Linked DNA regions of Homo sapiens. The protein of the gene in region 3 purifies or fractionates together with the protein of the main gene of each other region. This does not show direct contact. Each region holds a gene or a part of one and is shown on either strand. Other genes may lie near its edges.

What was found. The genes of interacting proteins can lie anywhere in the genome.
Region 1: the proteins of PRKCQ (region 3) and ZNF24 purify together in Homo sapiens (affinity purification with mass spectrometry; 2 studies listed by BioGRID and IntAct, with this or other methods). This does not show direct contact.
Region 2: the proteins of PRKCQ (region 3) and IKBKB purify together in Homo sapiens (affinity purification with western blotting; 4 studies listed by BioGRID). This does not show direct contact.

What each region holds. Positions count from the first base shown.
Region 1 is NC_000018.10:35,334,421-35,341,483, forward strand, and holds part of ZNF24 (zinc finger protein 24), read right to left. Parts: intron 6,314-7,063; 5' UTR 6,231-6,313; coding exon 5,811-6,230; intron 5,557-5,810; coding exon 5,409-5,556; intron 4,654-5,408; coding exon of another isoform or gene 4,640-4,653; exon of another isoform or gene 3,351-4,639; coding exon 2,812-3,350; 3' UTR 1-2,811. UniProt on the Homo sapiens protein: Transcription factor required for myelination of differentiated oligodendrocytes. Required for the conversion of oligodendrocytes from the premyelinating to the myelinating state.
Region 2 is NC_000008.11:42,330,239-42,332,960, reverse strand, and holds the end of IKBKB (inhibitor of nuclear factor kappa-B kinase subunit beta), read right to left. Parts: exon of another isoform or gene 2,622-2,722; intron 2,048-2,621; coding exon 1,982-2,047; 3' UTR 501-1,981; downstream 1-500.
Region 3 is NC_000010.11:6,492,470-6,501,228, forward strand, and holds part of PRKCQ (protein kinase C theta type), read right to left. Parts: intron 6,090-8,759; coding exon 5,927-6,089; intron 4,783-5,926; coding exon 4,751-4,782; intron 4,652-4,750; coding exon 4,566-4,651; intron 908-4,565; exon of another isoform or gene 590-907; intron 42-589; exon of another isoform or gene 1-41. UniProt on the Homo sapiens protein: Calcium-independent, phospholipid- and diacylglycerol (DAG)-dependent serine/threonine-protein kinase that mediates non-redundant functions in T-cell receptor (TCR) signaling, including T-cells activation, proliferation, differentiation and survival, by mediating activation of multiple transcription factors such as NF-kappa-B, JUN, NFATC1 and NFATC2.

The DNA of each region.
Region 1 (7,063 bases), on a different chromosome or scaffold from region 3:
TAGCATGCAGATTATTTCAGTACATGTAACCCTCCCTTCAATTTACATGAATATGAGACATATTGCTAAAGATCAAGTACCAACTGGGTATGACTACAGAGAGCTTAACCTCCAAGAAAGCCAGAAGAAAAAACCAGCAAATGCTCAGTGGCTACTGGGCAGATATCAGCAATCTGCATGACCTAAAATGACTGCTCATTTGCTAACCAAACAGATACTCTGGCGATGCCACTGCTTGGCACTGCCATATCACCACTTCATCAGAAGCTAGGCACTCCCCCAAATTTCTATGATTATCTGTGTGGGTAATGAATGTGTGGATGGAATTTAAAAATCACTACATAGTATTTAAAATCAATTTGTCTAGTGGGGACTAAGCCTAACCAGAGATAGAAAGTACACATCTCATCATTTCCTCTTCTTGTGTGCCACCATCCAGTTTTTTTTGGTCCAGTCCCTTTTTCCCACAGAGCTTTGCCTTAGCCTCAGAATCCTTTCTGAACAATGCAGATATTAGAGCTGCCAAGACAAAAACAGTATTTGCCAACCCTCATACTACTTTTTCTACACTCACATTACCAAATATCTTTGGCATTTATGACAAATCTACCACAGGGAAGCTTCCTTGTATATAGGAACCGCATACGATCTTAAAAAGCATGACATAATAGCCATTGAGAGGTTGCTCCCTTCTTACCTACTCTGATACAAGAATTCTGTCATTCCAGCCGTCTTCCAAATATGCCACCTGAAAACCTACTTGGAAAGAAGCCAGTTATAAATAAATAAATCACATCATTTATCTTAGAGCAGAGGAGTTTACAGCTTTATTGGACACTGACTTGTTTCCCCTCAGCCACAAAGAGAAAAAGACCCAAACAAAAGTCCCTACATTTTCTTGTATAACTTAAAATACATTATATCATTACTACATATTTATACTTCAATAAATCTTAATCTATAAAGCACATTTTTTATAATTGTTATCAGAAAACCTATAAACAAGCTCCATTCTGCCTCACTTTTCCACCAGCTGGCCTTGCATTTATTACTATGCTTTTTAATAGGCTCATGCAAAATCTCACCTTCCATTTTTAAACTTGATCCAAGCACCAGATATAACCAAAATCTCTGAACTAGGAAATATTTGTATTCACATGGGTCATTTTCCACACAATGATGCCCATTATAAAAAAGCCTCCTCTCATATTCTATATTTTAACTTCCAGAGTTTTCCACTAAACAGTAGAACCACAGTACTTGGAATTCTCAGCCAAGGAGTATATAATCCTACTACTACAATGTATTACTTTAATACATTTTAAAAAATGTGTTAAGACTGAAAATTAAAAAAAAATTCAATTGTGATAGGTTAATAAACTAGTTAATTGTCTAGTTGTTTATTTTTTAAATAGAACAGTCCATTCAACTTAATATGTAGGTACAACCTCAATGCTATTAGAGATTGATTAGTTCTTTAAAAAGATTCACAAACTTCCAAATTGTGGTAAGAGTATCGTGGACTCACCTCTGAACACTGGAGAGCCAGCTAGCTCTTTTGAGCCGAGTCCTCCTCCCCCTCCAAATACAACACCCTGGTAAAAAAAACTACAGTTCTGGGAACCTCACAGGTGACCTCCCCTGAGGAATGCTCAGACAAGGGGAAGAGGCTAACTCACATAAAACAGCAAACCCCTATGATTTACAGTGGAAGAAATACCTACCTACTTATGGTAGGATTACAGTACCTAGCACAGTGCCTTGTCGGTAGAAAATGTTTAATAATAAATGCATGGCTGCTTTTTTAGCCTGACGTTCAACCCTTTTGTACCAAAGGAATAAAAAATAGGTAACCTGATACTTGCCCACCTGTCAGGGAATTTTCTGTCCTTAACAAAGATGAAGGCAAAATAATGATGAACTCTATCATCTTTTTCTAAAAGCCATGACAGACCATTACCCTTATGTTTACATTTGCCTTCAACACTGCCATCCGCTACAAATTTTTCCCTAGTGTTATAATTTCTACCTTCATTATTTTACAACTGTTTATTATTTAGACTGTATGCTTTTTAATAATATATGGGAAAACATTATTTTCATTAGTAAGATGACTCCAAATTATAGAGAGGATGAGTAGCTTTTGAATTTTCCTGCAGGCAAAATATAAATTCTTGATACATTTCAATTCTTAGATCAAAGTATTTGCATATCTTCCCCAATCAAGGTGTTCCATTCACTTTTTGATGTTTTATCACCATCACTTCTTATCTGAGATCTTATGGTTCATTTTGAGGCTCTTAGCCATCCTTTATCCTCTTATTTTCTCAAATGCATATTCAAATTAGGTAAAAGGAAATAAGGGTAAATTTTTAAAAGATGGTTTAAAATGGTTTTCAGACTTTGTAATTCCTGTTGCCTTTTAATATATAAGGGAATGTATCCATATAAAGAACATTTCAATGATCAATGCAGAAATAATGTATTTGTCTTAAAAAAGAAACTTTCAAGAAAGGGACAATGAATCAGGTAGTTCATTATTTGGAGAAGTAATACAGACTATAAACATCACATGGAAAATTTAGGCATTAAGACCTGAATTAAGTTTAAAATTTCAGTTTCTAGGCAGGTATGACACCATTTCTTTCAAGATAAATATCATAATGGTGAGTGAAGATTTTTACATTTCCCAGTGGATTTTCTGACAGTCAATAGGGAAAAAACTATTCTGCATCATTTCATATTTTAAATTTTGTCTTCATTTCTGAAGAAAAAGACCTGAGTGCTGATTCTTTTTTTTTTTTCAATTTCTTAAACTTTCACAACATTCAGAAGTTTTTCTGCATTGTGTCTTCTCTGATGTCTAAAAAGATTTGAGCTTTGACTATACGATTTCCCACACTGAACGCATTCATAAGGTTTCTCCCCAGTATGGATTCTCTGATGATTAATAAGCCCCGAATTCTGGCTAAAGGCTTTCCCACATTCAAGACATTTGTAAGGTTTTTCTCCAGTGTGGACTCTCTGGTGTTGCACAAGAATGGAACTTCGGCTGAATGCTTTCCCACACTCAACACATCCATAAGGTTTCTCCCCACTGTGAATTCTTTGATGAAGAATAAGGGCTGAGCCCTGACTGAAGTGTTTTCCACATTCATCACATATATGTTGTTTCTTTCGAGAGGGATTTCTCTTTCTTTCAAACCTGCCCTTGGGGAAACAGGTTTCTCCATATTTAAAAATTTGAGGAACACCCATATTGAGAGTGCCAGGAACTTCATGGGATTCTAATGCTGAAGGAAGCTCCTGCTTTGGAGCTAGTGCTCCATTTTCAGTCCTACCATCATCATCTGAAATAAACAGAAAATGTAAATATCATTCATTATCTATTAAGGGAAAAGAAACCTAAAAAAAATTTTTTTTTTAATGAACTAAAATAGCTAGCACACATCTATAAACCACTCTGACACTGGTGTTAAGGCCTATTCTCAAAAAAGAAAAAATGAAATTACTCTGAATAACAGTATAACATCATGATATAAGGGATATCTGAATAAAACATAGGCAAGTGGTTTACAAATGGTAGTCAGAAAACAAAGGTCAGAAAGATGGTAGATTCTAAGATGGTTAGGGAGATAGTCAAAATGATGTGGCTAGGTATGGATGAAACTTTGTAAGAATAAAAATAAAATAAAATTGGCCACTAGGAAATCATTATAATGTTCTTTTACTTTGAGAAAGGGAGAAATTACATCAAAATACAAAGATGTAAATTAGAAAAACATGTCAGAAAGTGGCTATTTCTGAAATGAACAAGCCAAGTCAGGTCACAGCCAATGTTAGCCTAAAAGCAGAACACAGGAGTCTTGACAAGAAGGGGCTGAAGATAAGCTGGGGGCCTCCTGTGTTAACCAAAGACATGACATAAAAATTCAGTATGCCCCTAATAAATGAAAGTTTTCCAATAAAAGCAGCTTCTCCCATGTGGTATTTGTCATGGTACTTAGAAAAATCGTTATTTCTAAGCCTCAGTGAAACGTGTCCAATGAAAGAAAAGCCTGAATTACCAACATGGGTTAGCATCACTCACACGCAGGCAGAGATAACAGCAAGTGTCATTTAAGACTTTTCTAAAACTTCATGCCTTAAGGAGTAAAGATCCAGTTCATATAGGGTTAGCAACTGCCTTCAGCGAAGAGGAAAACAGTAAATAATTAACAAAAAGATCAAGTCAGGAGATAAGGCTAAGAGAGAGAGACTGAAAGGTTAGAGGAGGATAGTGAGGCTTGGAGACTTGAAAAACAGAGGAGCGTGAAGATTAAGTGGAGACAAACGGCACACAGGAAACAGAAATTCCCAAGTGTGGAAGAGACTAGACAGCTGAAATAAGGAACGCAGGTGAAAAGTCACTCTAAAATTCAGATGATGAGAAGTTGAAAATATCAGCCCCATATATCAAGAATGATACTTCTCAAACTTTATTGCACAGAAGAATGTCCCATGAAACATGTAAAACTGCAGATTTTCAGCAGACTTCAGCCCCACCCCAAAAGTTGACTGGCTGGCACTGTCCCCTCAGATGTGAAGAAAACCTGCTCAGACCTCATTCAGTGGCATACCAGCACCATCTCCAACTACTTCAAGGAATGATTACTAAAGCAGAGTCAAACAAAATTTCATTTTAGTTCACATAAACATGAGAAAGCAATCTAGCAGTTTTAGGAATATACTGGGCCATATCAAAGGATACACATAAGTATATGGTGTTAATGGCTAATATATTGGGAAAGACTGGTCTCGTGAATTAATACAACTTTGAGCTTTTAAAAAAGATTTTTCTGCATTTAAAGCATGTTATAGCTAAGGAGGCTTTTTTTGCATAAATACTTAGAAAAAGGAAAAAAATTACTCCAAATATTTCTACAAAAGAAGCTTCTTAGAAGAAAATGACTCTAGGTAGACGTTGAAGGAAATCAGAAATAAATATTTAGAAAGATTTCAGTGATATACAACAAAGAGATTAGAAGAGGTTTTCAGGTAAGCTTACTGTACCAATGGAATTAGGCAGGAGATTGAAAGTAAAAGGATGTAAAACAGATGACAAGTAATACTGAATGCAAAATAGAGGGACTTGGTCCATGGGTGGGTGCTGGCTCAAAGTAAGGCAAATGCTAGCCTGACATGGGCAACTCTTTTTAGGAAGGAGACTGAAAGGGAAGAAAAGGCTGAAGATGTTAATGTCTAGGAATAAAAGGTCTGAGGCCAGCAAAATCAACTTAATCAGAAAAAAACTGAGATATTAGATTAAGAGTGATATGATCCCCCCACCAGTGAGAACAAGCAAAGTTCTGAACAAAAGGCCTATACTCTCTTTCACCCTCTAGCCCACACAGAGTTCTGGTCCTCACCACAGTGCCTTAGGGAATGGAGCTCCCAGGATGCCCACTTGAGCTGGTTCTCCACAGCATCAAGCTCAGAACTTGGTAATCCCTGAGCTTCTTCTTGAGATACCATGTCTTCTACTAGTACTTCCCGTTTTCGTCGACGGAGAGAAACCTGGAAACAGAAAGATTTGATTCAGAGAAGGAACTGTAATGAGAATCAGAACTAAAAACACGTAAGAGAAACCCCATGAAACAAATACTGCAGAAGCCTAGATGGCAAAGCGGCACAGATAACAAGGAGTGGTAGGGGAATGGGGGAAAAGGCATAAACATAATTCTAACTTAGTTGAGTGGAATTAATTCAGCAGCTTTGCCTACTACCTATGCCAGTGCTTCTGACACAGGAAATGACACAAGCAGGCTCACCGGTTGTCCAGGGTCATCAAGTTCACTCTCCAAATCCTCCAGCACTGTCACTGCCTCCTCTCCATTCTCTGGATGATGATCTCGAACCCAAGTCTGTAGCTCTTTGGGTAGGATGGCAACAAACTGCTCCAGCACTACCAGCTCCAAGATTTGTTCTTTTGTGTGCGTCTCTGGCCTGAGCCACAGACGGCAAAGTTCTCGGAGCTGGCTCACAGCCTCACGGGGCCCAGGTGAATCCTGGTATCCAAACTGCCTGAATCGCTGTCGGAAAATCTCTGGGTCTGGGAGATGGTTCCAGGGGATACTTGATCCCTCTTCGCCATCAGGATCCTCCTCCAACTTCACTCTCAGAATTTTTTCCTCTTCATCTGGAGTTGGGATGATAAGTATTGAATCTTCTTCCACTGACTGTGCAGACATTCTGATTTATAATATTTCAAGAAAAGACAACTGAGGCAGAATATAAGCCTCAGGGCAATACCCCGTTTTCTTCACAGGCACTCCTGAGGCATAAGAAATAAAAGATATATAAATAAGCAAAAATATCCTAAGAATTTGAACTTATACTGGTAAAAGTAAAAGATACTTGTTCTTTGAGTTAAAAATTCCAATCAATAACCTACACCAGGAATTGGCAAACTACAGCTTCACGGCCAAATCTAGCCTGCCACCCATTTCTGTACAACACTTGCACCAACAATAATTTTCACATTTTTAAATGGCTGTGGTCTTCATCACAGTGCCTTACGGAGCGGAGATCCCTAAAATCAAATGAATACCTAATGATATTTAGGGAATGGAGCTCCCCAAAATCAAATGAATACCTCATGACACGTGAAAATGATATGAAATTAACATGACTGTGTCCATAAATAATTGTACTTACTCATACTTCACGCTACAATAGCAGAGTTGAGTAGTTTCAACAGACTAGATGGCCTAAAAAAAACCCAACACAGTCATGCACTACAAAATGATGTTTGGGTCAATGAAGGACCACCTAGATGACAGTGCTCCCATAAGATTATAATGGAGCTGAAAAATTCAAGATTCACCTAGTGACACTGTAGCTGTTGTAAGGTCAATACATTACTCACATGTTTGTGGTGATGCTGGTGTAAACAAACCTGCTGTGTTGCCAGTTTAACACATACAGTTATGTATGGTACATAAAACTTGATAACAATAATAAACGACTATGTTACTGGTTTATGTATTTACTATACTTTTTATACTATATTATTTTAGAGTGT
Region 2 (2,722 bases), on a different chromosome or scaffold from region 3:
AATGGCACAATCTCTGCTCACTGCAACCTCTGCCTCCTAGGTTCAAGCGATTCTCCTGCCTCAGCCTCCCGAGTAGCTGGGATTACAGGCATGTCCCACCACGCCTGGCTTTTGTATTTTTAGTAGAGACGGGGTTTCTCCATATTGGTCAGGCTGGTCTCGAACTCCCGACCTCAGGTGATCTGCCTGCCTCAGCCTCCCAAAGTGTTGGAATTACAGGCGTGAGCCACCGCGCCCGGCCTGGATTTTCACTTTTTAATCAATTACACTGTTTCAGCCATAAACTTTTTTTTTTTCCATTTTTTTTCTTTCTTTTCACAACTTGTCCTGTAACTGAACAGCCATAAACTTTTAAAATGACTGCTTTGGTTGGCATTTTCTTCGTCAAAATTCTTCAGTGGCTCAGTTGCCTGTAACATAAGCTCACAGCCCTTAGCCCAACATCCTTTCCCTCCCCAATCTGCCCGTCCTTGCCTTTCGGGTGTTATTTCCCACTGTCATTTACCAGGGTTTCCAAAATTGTGCTTTATTAAATGCTAGTTCATTGGAATGTTAATACATGTTTCACACACACAATCAGCAGGAGAAAATGTTTCTATAGCCAAATGACATTGATAAACAGTGTTCTTACACAAAGTTAAGCCTGTTTCTTTATTATAAGACTTTTCAGATACTTTCCCAGTGCATAGTGTGAATCTCCACAAAGCAAGTGAAACATGAATAGCTCCCTAAACTTACTTGACCACAGAATGCTTCATTCTATCTCCATGGAAACCACTTGTGAAAGTCTCCTACTCCAACTTTCTTCTCCAACAAAACTCACCTGTTTGTGATCATCTGAACTCATTTTGTGCTCTTGCCTTTATATAAAAGAGAAGTTCTGTGAAATGTTGAAGAAGCAGGGTTATGGCACTAGTAATGATCCAGGCACTATACAAATTGTTAAAATTTTCCATTATTTTAGTTCAGAAGCCCTAACCATAGGTATTCTAACAGTGGATTGTGGAACCCAGTATGAGTGTTTGAGACATGTTACAAAATATAGGAGCTATTTTTAAAATGAATCCATTTAATAATACTGCTAGATGCTGTGAGAGACAGGGACTCCCCGGCCCAGCACACACGCTTGAGCAGGAATGGAGACATGGGCATGGGTAGGCAGGCTGGTGGTCAGCAGATACCCTTTCTGTCCCTCCTCTGTGACAATCACCCCCAAGTAATTTTTGGGATTCAGAATAAGGCAGCTGCTCTCCCATCCTGGTTACTATGAGTCGCTCTTGGCAGAAAGGACCACAGATGGAGAGCTTGGCACTCGCTCCAACTTTGCCGAAAAGAGGACAACCACCAAAGTAGTAGGTAAAAACACAATTTTAGCAGCAGTGAAATAAAAAGAGGAAGTGAGGATGGGGCCAGGCCGCAACTATAATTAAACTGTCTGTTTAGGAGAAGCTGAATCCAGAAGAAACACAAGCTGTAAAGTGAGAGAGGACAGGGAGCAGGGCCTTTGGAGAGCAGGAGAGGACAGGCTGTCACCAAGCGCTGCTCGGACTCTGCCCTGAAAGATTTGAATTGGACACTGTCCAGTCACGTGTGTGGCAAACCGTACTCCAAGCACTTTTCTCACGGCAGAGGAAGGAGCTGCCATGGCTGTACCCCTGAACGTTTGTGGGGCCAGCGATGTGCGCTGGGCCTCTGTAATGGAGGACCTCCAGTGTGCAGACAAGGCGCCGGCAGTGCCCACGGAGGGCTGCGTCCTGGGTCCTGGGTGAAAGTCACAGCTGCTGAGGAAGCGAGAGCTCCATCTGGATACCAGAGACCCCTGGGCCATCAGTGCAGCAGGAACCACCATGTGAGAGCCGCGGCCAGGCAGCCCCACGTCACGCGGCCTGCTCCAGGCAGCCCCATGTCAGGGGGTCGAGTCCCCCCACTGCACAAGGCCTGCTATGGGCTGCCCCATGTCAGGGGGTCGAGTCCCCCCACATCATGAGGCCTGCTCCAGGCAGCTGTGCTCTTCTTCTTCCGTCTGTAACCAGCTCCAGTCTAGGGCCTGAAAGTCAACAGACATGTTAAAAAAACAACAGCCACCAACACATTTCAGGTTATTTTTCCTCTTCAGGAGGAAATCAGGACAATTGAGAAATATACTAAAACCCAGCCAGGCACAGTGGCTCATGCCTATAATCCCAACACTTTGGGAGGCCAAGGTGGGCAGATCATGAGGTCAGGAGTTCGAGACCAGCCTGGCCAAAATGGTGAAACCCCATTTCTACTAAAAATACAAAATTAGCCAGGCGTGGTGGCAAGCTCCTATAGTCCCAGCTACTCAGGAGGCTGAGGCAGGAGAATCACTTGAACCTGGGAGGTAGGGGTTGCAGTGAGCTGAGATCGTGCCATTGCACTCCACCCTGGGCAAAAGAGCAAGACTCCATCTCAAAAAATAAAAAATAAAAAGAAATATATTGAAACCCCTTTATTGGCTGGGTATGGTGGCTCATGCCTATAGTTCCAGCACTTTGGGAGGCAGAGGCGAGCGGATCGCTTGAGGCCAGGAGTTCAAGACCAGCCTGGGCAACATAGCAAGACCCAGGCTGCATAAAACAAATAAATTAAACAAATACAAATTAAAAAGCCAAACCCTTTTATTAATAAATCTTGTGACTGCAGGGTACTCTTAAGCTAAGTTACATATTCAAACTGTACAGGATCTTTTCTTTGAATTGGC
Region 3 (8,759 bases):
GTATCCTCCTTTGACAGACGAGGAAATGAAGCACAGAGAAGGTAAGAAACTTGCCCAGGACACGCAGCTCTAGAGCTGGGATATCTATAAGCTTGGCAGTCAGAATCAGAGCCCAGCCATTCTCTTTTCTGTCTCAAAATAAATGTGAAGGCTTATCGGGGTAGGGAGAGGGGAGTGGGAGAGGGATGCTAGTGATCGACATGGAATTTTTTTAAAAAACAGTTTTCCAGAGTTTAAATCAAACTTATTGCAGGAACAACAAAACACTTGGATAGTTGGATTCCTGGTAAGAATGTGAATATTCTTGTGCAGGATAAAATGCTTTATTTTCTAAAGGTTTATAATCTCTGCAGAAGTTTCTAATTCAACAGTTCCTTTGGGAAGGTGCATAGCAAAGATGCCTTATTCATCAGCACAGCAATAGATCTAACGTTCCCGCCAGGGGTACTGGTCAGCGTTGGTTCTTTAGAAAGCCTGTGTAGAATCGATTAAAAATTGCTCAGCACTTACTACAGCCATTTTCAACCAAGAAAAAAATAATTTTCGGGACTCACTTATATTCCACAGTTTAAATATGGACAATTAATAGGTCAAGGTCCAGGCTGGAAGGGGACCACTTCGAATCTTGAATGCAGGGGCAAACAGCTCAAGACACCATGGCTGATGAAGACGCTATGTACACGCTTTCCAGTATGAAAACCAATGAGCTACATGGGGCTGGCGAACACTTGAAAGGTGGTGAGTTAGAGTTGAGATGTGCTGGACGTGTAAAATAATACATCCTGGAGTTTGAAGACTTTTGTATAAAATTACTTAAGATATCTGAATTTTTCAAATGTCGATTTTTTGTTGAAATGATATTTGAACAGATTGGATTAAATAAAATGTATTATTAAAATTAATTTCACCCATTGCTTTTTCCTTTATTTAATGTGGGCTACTTGGAAATGTAAAATTACACATGTAGCCCTCATTCTATTTATTTCTATCGGACAATACTGCTCCAGGGGTAGAGGAACAAAAGAATCCCAAAGATGATGTCCCCTTGAGTGAACAAGAAATCAAAATATCCTGGGAGAAGATAATATCACAGACATTTATTTATGTAGCTGACAGTTTCTCAAGACTTTGTACCAGGAACTTTGTTAGTCATTGAGGTTAACAGTGATTCAGAGATTTGCGTTTTTTTCTAGAAAAGCTGAAGGCATCAAGTAAAGGAAGAAGTCTGGGAGGTGAAAATTTGATCTAAGCAAGCAAAAACATGGTCTGAGAGATTGTGATCTTAATTTTAGTACCAGCTCTGCCACGTACAGGTGATCAAACATGAACAAACTACTTTAACCTCTTTGAGTCTTAGCAGAATCACCGGTTAGCACAAGTTTATCTCCTTCTGCTTCTAAATGTTAGGAGAAATTCTACTCTGGAAAAACCCAGCCACTTCGCCTTCTCTGAACCTGCCCCTTTGTTGGAGAAAATCATACTCCTGAGCAGGCTGACTCCGTCAAATTCAAATGGACTTTCAGCTCTGCTCCACAGTCTGACTGCTTTTCACGAGTCACCTTGCTTTCTCTAAGATAATTATCTCATAGATCTTCCTTTTTCCTCGAAGGCACTTGTTGCTTTCTCTTTTCCTTCCTCCAGCCATCAAACTCCATGGGGGACACATGCAGTCTAAGGGAAGCGCCTTTGTGTGCCCATCACCAAAGCTCCACACCCATCCCCATCAGCAACTGTCTTGCCCTACTCCCTTCCGGTTAAACTGTGGAAGCTCCAGGGACCAGTCTCCACCAGAGCTCAGGCCCTCTTCGCTTCCTGCCAACAGACTTGACTGTTTTGTTTATCTGTCTCTCCAGCTTTATCCATCTCTCCCTGGCCACGGGAGCACTTGCCATCCTTGGGGTCTCATTTCCCAGCCACTGTTCTCTGTCCATCATCTCCTTCATGGTTCACCTTCTTCATAATATCAACTTACAGGTTGTTTTCATGTCATCACCTCAGTCACCCTTCTGCAGGTCAATCAGACTAATGCCTCCAAGATGCCCCTGACATTTCTCTGATTTAAGCCTGTGAAGATCTGCACGTGGGCCTCAATTTCAACACCTCAACTGCACAGAACACAACCCACCTCTTCTTCTTCTGGTTTCTGTAACTTCATAGACTCTGGGTGTAGGAGGAGCGGTCTCTGAGCCCAGTTTCTCAATGTCTATCTCTGTCCTTTATCTTCTACCTAACATCTCATTTTAGATTCCTTTGTAGTCAGTCCTGAACTTTCTCTATTTCCTCACTAGGCAATCTCTTCAGCAACTTTAAAATCTACCTATATGATGGTCACTGTCAAATTTATAGGGTTGGGCCCTTGTCCCAGAGGAATTCCAAGCTCATGTGAAATTGTCTATTTGATGCTTCAACTTGGATGTCCACCTCTCCGACTCAACATGTCCAAACTGGAAAAATTCATCTCTCCTTCCAGTCTTCTTCACTCCGTCGTGGCTCTGTTATCTACCACACTGCTCGGCCTCGGGCAGAAGCCAGAACCTGCGGCATCATCCTTATATCCACCTCTTTCATCTAATCTTTTGGCAAATCCAGTCATTTCTAACATCAAAATCACCTGAGAACCTGCCCCTTTGCTCCACCTCTGCTGACGTCTCACTGGTATAAACCACCAACCTCCCCGCTTGGAGGATTCCTTCCATCTCCTCTGGTTTCACTTTCACATCTCAACGCACTATTTCTACTACAGCATCCCAAAGTGGGCTTTCTACTACAAGTTGCACAAAATACAATCATTTTTCCAGGCTCCAAAGAAACCCCGCATGACCCAGGCCTTGGTGCCTTCCCCAGTGTGGGCTTCCAGTCTGCGCAGCCCTTGCAGCTGTCACCACACTGGTCCCATTTCAGTTCCTGGAACACATTGGACTCTCCCTCAGCAGGGTCTTCCAGCCTGTAAGGAGCTTCCTTCCTCCTGCTCTTCACCTAACCAGCTCTGTCACTCTTCAGCTGTCAGTTTCAATGTTCCCTCCGTTGGGGAGATTCCCGGACCACAGAGTCTCAGTAGGCCACATGCTTACTCTCCACCTTGCACCTTGTTCACTATCTTTGTAGCACTTAATATAAATCGAAGCCATACATAGCTGTTTATTATCTGTTTCTCCAACTTCGCAGGACCACGTCTGTTTTGTGTTATGCTGTCATTGGAAGAATGCGGTATCTTCCATGAATCAGATACCCAGTGAGGATTTGTGGAATGAAAAAGGAAACGGTGGGAGAAGGAAGTCAAAAGATTTCATAATGAGTGACAGAGTGGAGTAATAGACATTGGAGACTACAGATGGCAGGATGGGAGGGAGGGAGGATTGAAAATTACCTATTGGGTGTAATATTCACTCTTCGGATGGTGGGTTCACTAGAAGCCCAGACTTCCCCACCAGGTAATATAGGCATAGAAGAAATCTGTACTTGTAGGCCAGGTGTGGTGGCTCATGCCTATAATCCCAGCACTTTGGAAGGCCAAGACAGGTGAATCACCTGAGGTCAGGAGTTTGAGACCAGCCTGGCCAACATGGTGAAACCGCATCTCTACTAAAAATACGAAAATTAGCCAGGCGTGGTGGCATATGCCCGTAATCCCAGCTACTCAGGAGGCTGAGGCAGGAGAATCTCTTGATCCTGGAAGGTGGAAGTTGCAGTGAACCAAGATGACACCACTGCACTCCAGCCTGGGTAAACAGAGTAAGATTCCATCTCAAAAAAAAAAAAAAAAAAAAAAAAATTGAAAAAAGAAATCTGCACTTGTACCTCCTAAATACATATAAATTTTTAAAAATTTAAAATTCATAATGATACACTGCCCATGTGCTAGCCCAGTTTCCCCCCTCCATTAGGTAAAATGTAATTTGTCTTCCGATTATACCTCAACGTTTACTCTAAAAGAAATATTTGCTTCTCAACATAAAATTATGCCTCTGTTATTATCTCTAACCTTGTAAATGCCATGTTGCTGTATCTTATCATCATTTGCCTTTATTTACTCTTTTACTGTCACTTCTAGCTGGGGGTGCCACAAGGATTATTCTCATATAATTAATCTAAACTATGCTTTCTGGCCACTTTCTATGCCATTTTTCTGGAAAAGTAGAGCAATGAAAATTCTTCCTGTATATAATTTGTGTATATTTAGGAGGTACAAGTGCAGATTTCTTTTTTTTTTTTCTTTTCTTTTTGAGATGGAGTCTCACTCTGTTGCCCAGACTGGAGTGCGGTGGCATGGTCCTGGTTCACTGCAACCTCCGCCTCCCGAATTCAAGAGATTCTCCTGCCTCAACCTCCTGAGTAGCTGGGATTACAGGCTTATGCCACCAGGCCTGGCTAATTTCTAATTCATCCTCTGGTTTGGGTAATTCAGTAAGAATCATTATTGAAGAGGAAAGAGTTTTGGGGAGATGGATGTTCACTGATAAATGGGAGGATGCAAGTTCTGGCATTATTCTGAAGAATTCGTGGGCTGTAACATTTAACGTTCTGATAAAAATCACTGCACGTCAAAGAGGAGTGTAAATACTCACCATGGTTTCTCGGCTATTGATAGCTGATCCTGTGCACTTTGCTATAACTTTATCAATACACTTCTTGTGAATTGCTGCATTGCATTCTGAAAAGAAGAAAAAAATCACAGCTTAAGATTTTCATAGCCTAAGGAATAACTAAATAAAAAGAATGATGGTAATGCAACCAAAACCCTCTTACTTACGTCGGCACTGGTAGCCCTGTTTGTTCAGGCCCCTGTAATAAAGCACACGCTGATTTATTTCAATGTTGGCATCAACATCAGCACCAACAGCATTTAAGAGATGGATGAGATCTCATAACCCCCTAAGATCACAGAGCAGTTTCTGATCAGCAGCCCTGTTGTATCATTTGCCAAGAGTATTAACAGAGTGTTTTTCATTTGAAGCTGCGTTTTAAAAAGTTTGATAATTAAATAAATGAGAACTGGCTGATTTATCATCCTTGTATTTTCCAAACATATAGAGATTAAAATGCATGAATGAAAATGCATGCATCACAGACTCTTCGTAGCACGTTTCCCTGTGCTAGATTTAAAAATTCATGGCCTCGCTGAGCTCACTACAGACGAACAAAGACATCTGTAACATTTTATTTCCTCTTTCTGAGCATCTGAGAATATTTGCAACCAACAAAGTCTCACATGCAGGACCGATTCCTGAGTGACATCCATGATTAGAGAGAAAGGAGGTTCAAGTGATTAGACGAAAGCAGGCTGATGAAAACCCGCCAAGTCGATCTGGCATGTGGATACCCTGGTTACACAGGAGCTGTGCTTTAACAGTTTCTGCAGTAGCCTAAAGGGAAGAGTATCCCTTAATAGGCTAGGATGCTGAGAGCCAGAAACAGGAGTTATTTCAAGTCTCCACTCTGTCATAGCCTTTGCTATGTGGTTACTGAGGTTTAAACTGATCTGTTTGATGGCTATTAAGATACCCAAGAGCCTCATAAGCATTTAAACCATTAGCTACAATGGCAGAGTGCTGCCTGCTGGAAAAAGTAGCACCAGCAGGGTTGGGCCATTAGGTGGGGGAAGTTTTGACTATAAAACTGGAAAACTGTTTGTAATAAAGATACCTTTCACTTCTGTTTCTTCCCACTTACCCCCAATAGCCCCCCCATTGAGGCAGAAACTAAAATCCCATGGGCATTTTTCCTGACTAGACCTGGCTTCCTCATGCACCTCTTTTATTGGATCACACCATTTGAACCTTCTCAGTTCAGGCAAGGTCCCTGACAACGCTGAGGTAGCATTTACTCCAGCACACCCCCCACAGTGGAGCATGCCAGCGTAGAGGATTAAGAAGACGCAACAAAATGCATAACCCGAAGCTTGGAGGGAGATGCCAAGTTACTGTACCAGACAAACTCGTGGCAGACAGAGCAAAATGTGGGCTGTGGGAAGAAGGTGGCAGTGAACTCGTGGCACTTGACGTGGTGGACCTTTGCCTGCTTGATGGCACCCCGGCGCTGATGCAAAGCAAAGAAGCCTTCCGTCTCAAATTCATTCATGTCCTTTGTGTCTACAGGAAGAGAGAGGGGAAGAAAGTGAAGTTCTGCAAAAGGACGACTCCTATTCTAAGCTGGGTCAGGAGGGGAGGGAGATGGGCAAGGGATGGAGGAGGACCAGCTCTGAGTACCTGCTGTAACATTCCAGGTACTCATTATGGTGGGTACCACACTAAGCATCTTTCCTCAAATTCTACAACACAGATTCATCATAGGGCATATTGTTAGAGGGTGAAAACAATGTTGGATTGCTGGCTCAATCCTTCGCTCCTCTTTGACTGGGCTGAGCGATATATCCTCTTCAAGTTTCAAAACCAGAGATTAGAACTTTGAAGGGATCTATCAACCTCTCTTTGTCACCATCAATGATGACTCAGTCAGAAAAGGCAGGAAGTGGCAAAGGCTTTCCTGTCTGTAATTCTAGAGAATCACATGGTTACTGACAGCCTCTTGGGAACAGCATTTCAGAGGTGCCAGGATGCTTTATAGCAGGTTGTTGGAGACATGCTGGAGTAGACTAGGGGGAGCTGACCAGGATTTTGTGTGAGGAGAAAGGAACTTTGGGACATTGTGTCCTGGTTCCTGATGTCCACAGTGATCAGACACACCAGCTGCCAACCATATTTACCAATGTGAAAAAGGCCAGAAAATTAATAGCTCACTGCATTTTTTTGGTGTCTAGGTAATCCTGTGCATTACCTAGTCATCAGCATCAAACCATCAGATTCAATCTATTCATTTTACTCTGGGCTCATAAATATTGGTGAAAGTGCTTTGGATAGTCACTGTTTACAGTGCCCTATACCTGAATGACATCTTTCCAAAGGGTTGAAAAACTAAGATAGTCAAATTATGAGAATGCTCAGGATGCCCTTGCTGAAGCCCAGGTCCTCATGAAACACCAAATTGTAAGGCAGTCATGGTTAAACAGCACAGTGGACACAGCAGGTGAGAGAGAATAACACAAGGAACAGTAAAGAAATAAAAATATCCACTGCTGTAACAAAAATGATACACAAATAAATATGTGAATAAATAAATAAGGATAATGAATTTAAATCCCAGAGTTATAATTTTGTAATAGCTTGAAGACTCTTGGATTACTTCTTCTATTTTGTTACAAATACAAAACATTGAGGTTTCATTTAAAAAGCAGGTTCATCATATTTCACAATGAGTTAATAATATTCAAACTAAATTTCTTCTATTGTGGCTAAGCAGTGGCAGTAGCCTGACAATGCGTTTGGGGCAAATTATCTTCCAAGATACCTTATTGTCCAATCCCTAACAGTGGCTAGATTAGAAACACTCTAGGTAGACAAAGGAGGAGCTGTGTGGGTAGAAACCTCCCCCAGGAATCCAGCCACATCCCAGGACACATTGTAGGACTGAAGTCTTTTCTGTAGTGTCCGCAGATTTGTTTTATGGCAACCCCAACTTCCAGACAAAAAGCATTTCCAGTAACCCTCTAACAGTTCCACAGATGGGACATAATACTTTGCCTAATACTTTAAGAGTAGGTAATTTTGGTCTTTTTACCTGGAACTAGGCTGGAAATAATAGATTTGGCTTGGTAAATGAGGGGTTAAATTAAGGATCACTGAGTTAATCACCTTCTTCCACAAGTTCTGGTCTAAATGTCCAAATCTATTTACAACTTGTGACTAGTATAGTAGGTCATTTGTTTATAACATGTGACTTGTTTCTATTTTGGTCCAGATGAAATAAAATAAAATAAAAATAAGTATAAATACACTTTTAAATGCAGGGAATGAAAGTGAATTATTATGGGGACCCTATACAGGTTTTTACTGTAAAAATCATATATGTTTATATGTATATTAAACATATTTTATACATATATCTATACATATATGTTTATATACATATATGTCTACATATAGTTTATATTTTTATAAACTATAAATATATAGTTATATACACAATTTCTACATTAGACTATAGTACTATAATTTTTTTAAAATATCAGGAATTTCTAGAAATGAATTAATACCCTGTTATTTTCTGTGATTTTCATTATTCTCTATTTCAATCATTACAAAAGAATAAATGTAAAAACATAGAATTCTTTAATTTTTTTTGTATTGACTATATTTATTTCTCTATTTACTGGTTTGAATGAGCTCATTGGTTTTTGCAATTTTTTTTCTTTTATACTAATGGATTCTAATCTATTTATGTGGTCTAACCTATCACTTGTTTGTAGTCAATCAAATTACAAGTTTCCTGAGCAGCTGTGAGTAAACTGCCTTGCTGAGTGTGCTGAAGAAACACATTATTCCTCACCCTTGCATGGCTAACAGTCAAGTCAGGGAGACGTGGCACAGGCACAGAACAGCCAACCTTAAGAGGCAATATATGATGGTGTGGAATAGGCTCCGAGATATGTGTACCCATATTTTTTAGGAGGTAGGAAAAGAAATGGCAAAAGAGACCAAGAAGAGGCAGCTGAAAAATTAAGAGGAAAACCTGGACAATATCACATCAGGCAAGCTGAAAAGAAATGAAGTTTTCAGCATTGTATGATAGAGAGATATCAAGGAAATTGAAGGCTAAGAAGCAGGAACCACTTGTGAGAACTCATAATCTTGGAGACCCAGAGTCTTAGGGTCTAAGAATAGAAGTAGAAGGGAAGAAAAAGAAACTGATAAATATAAACTACT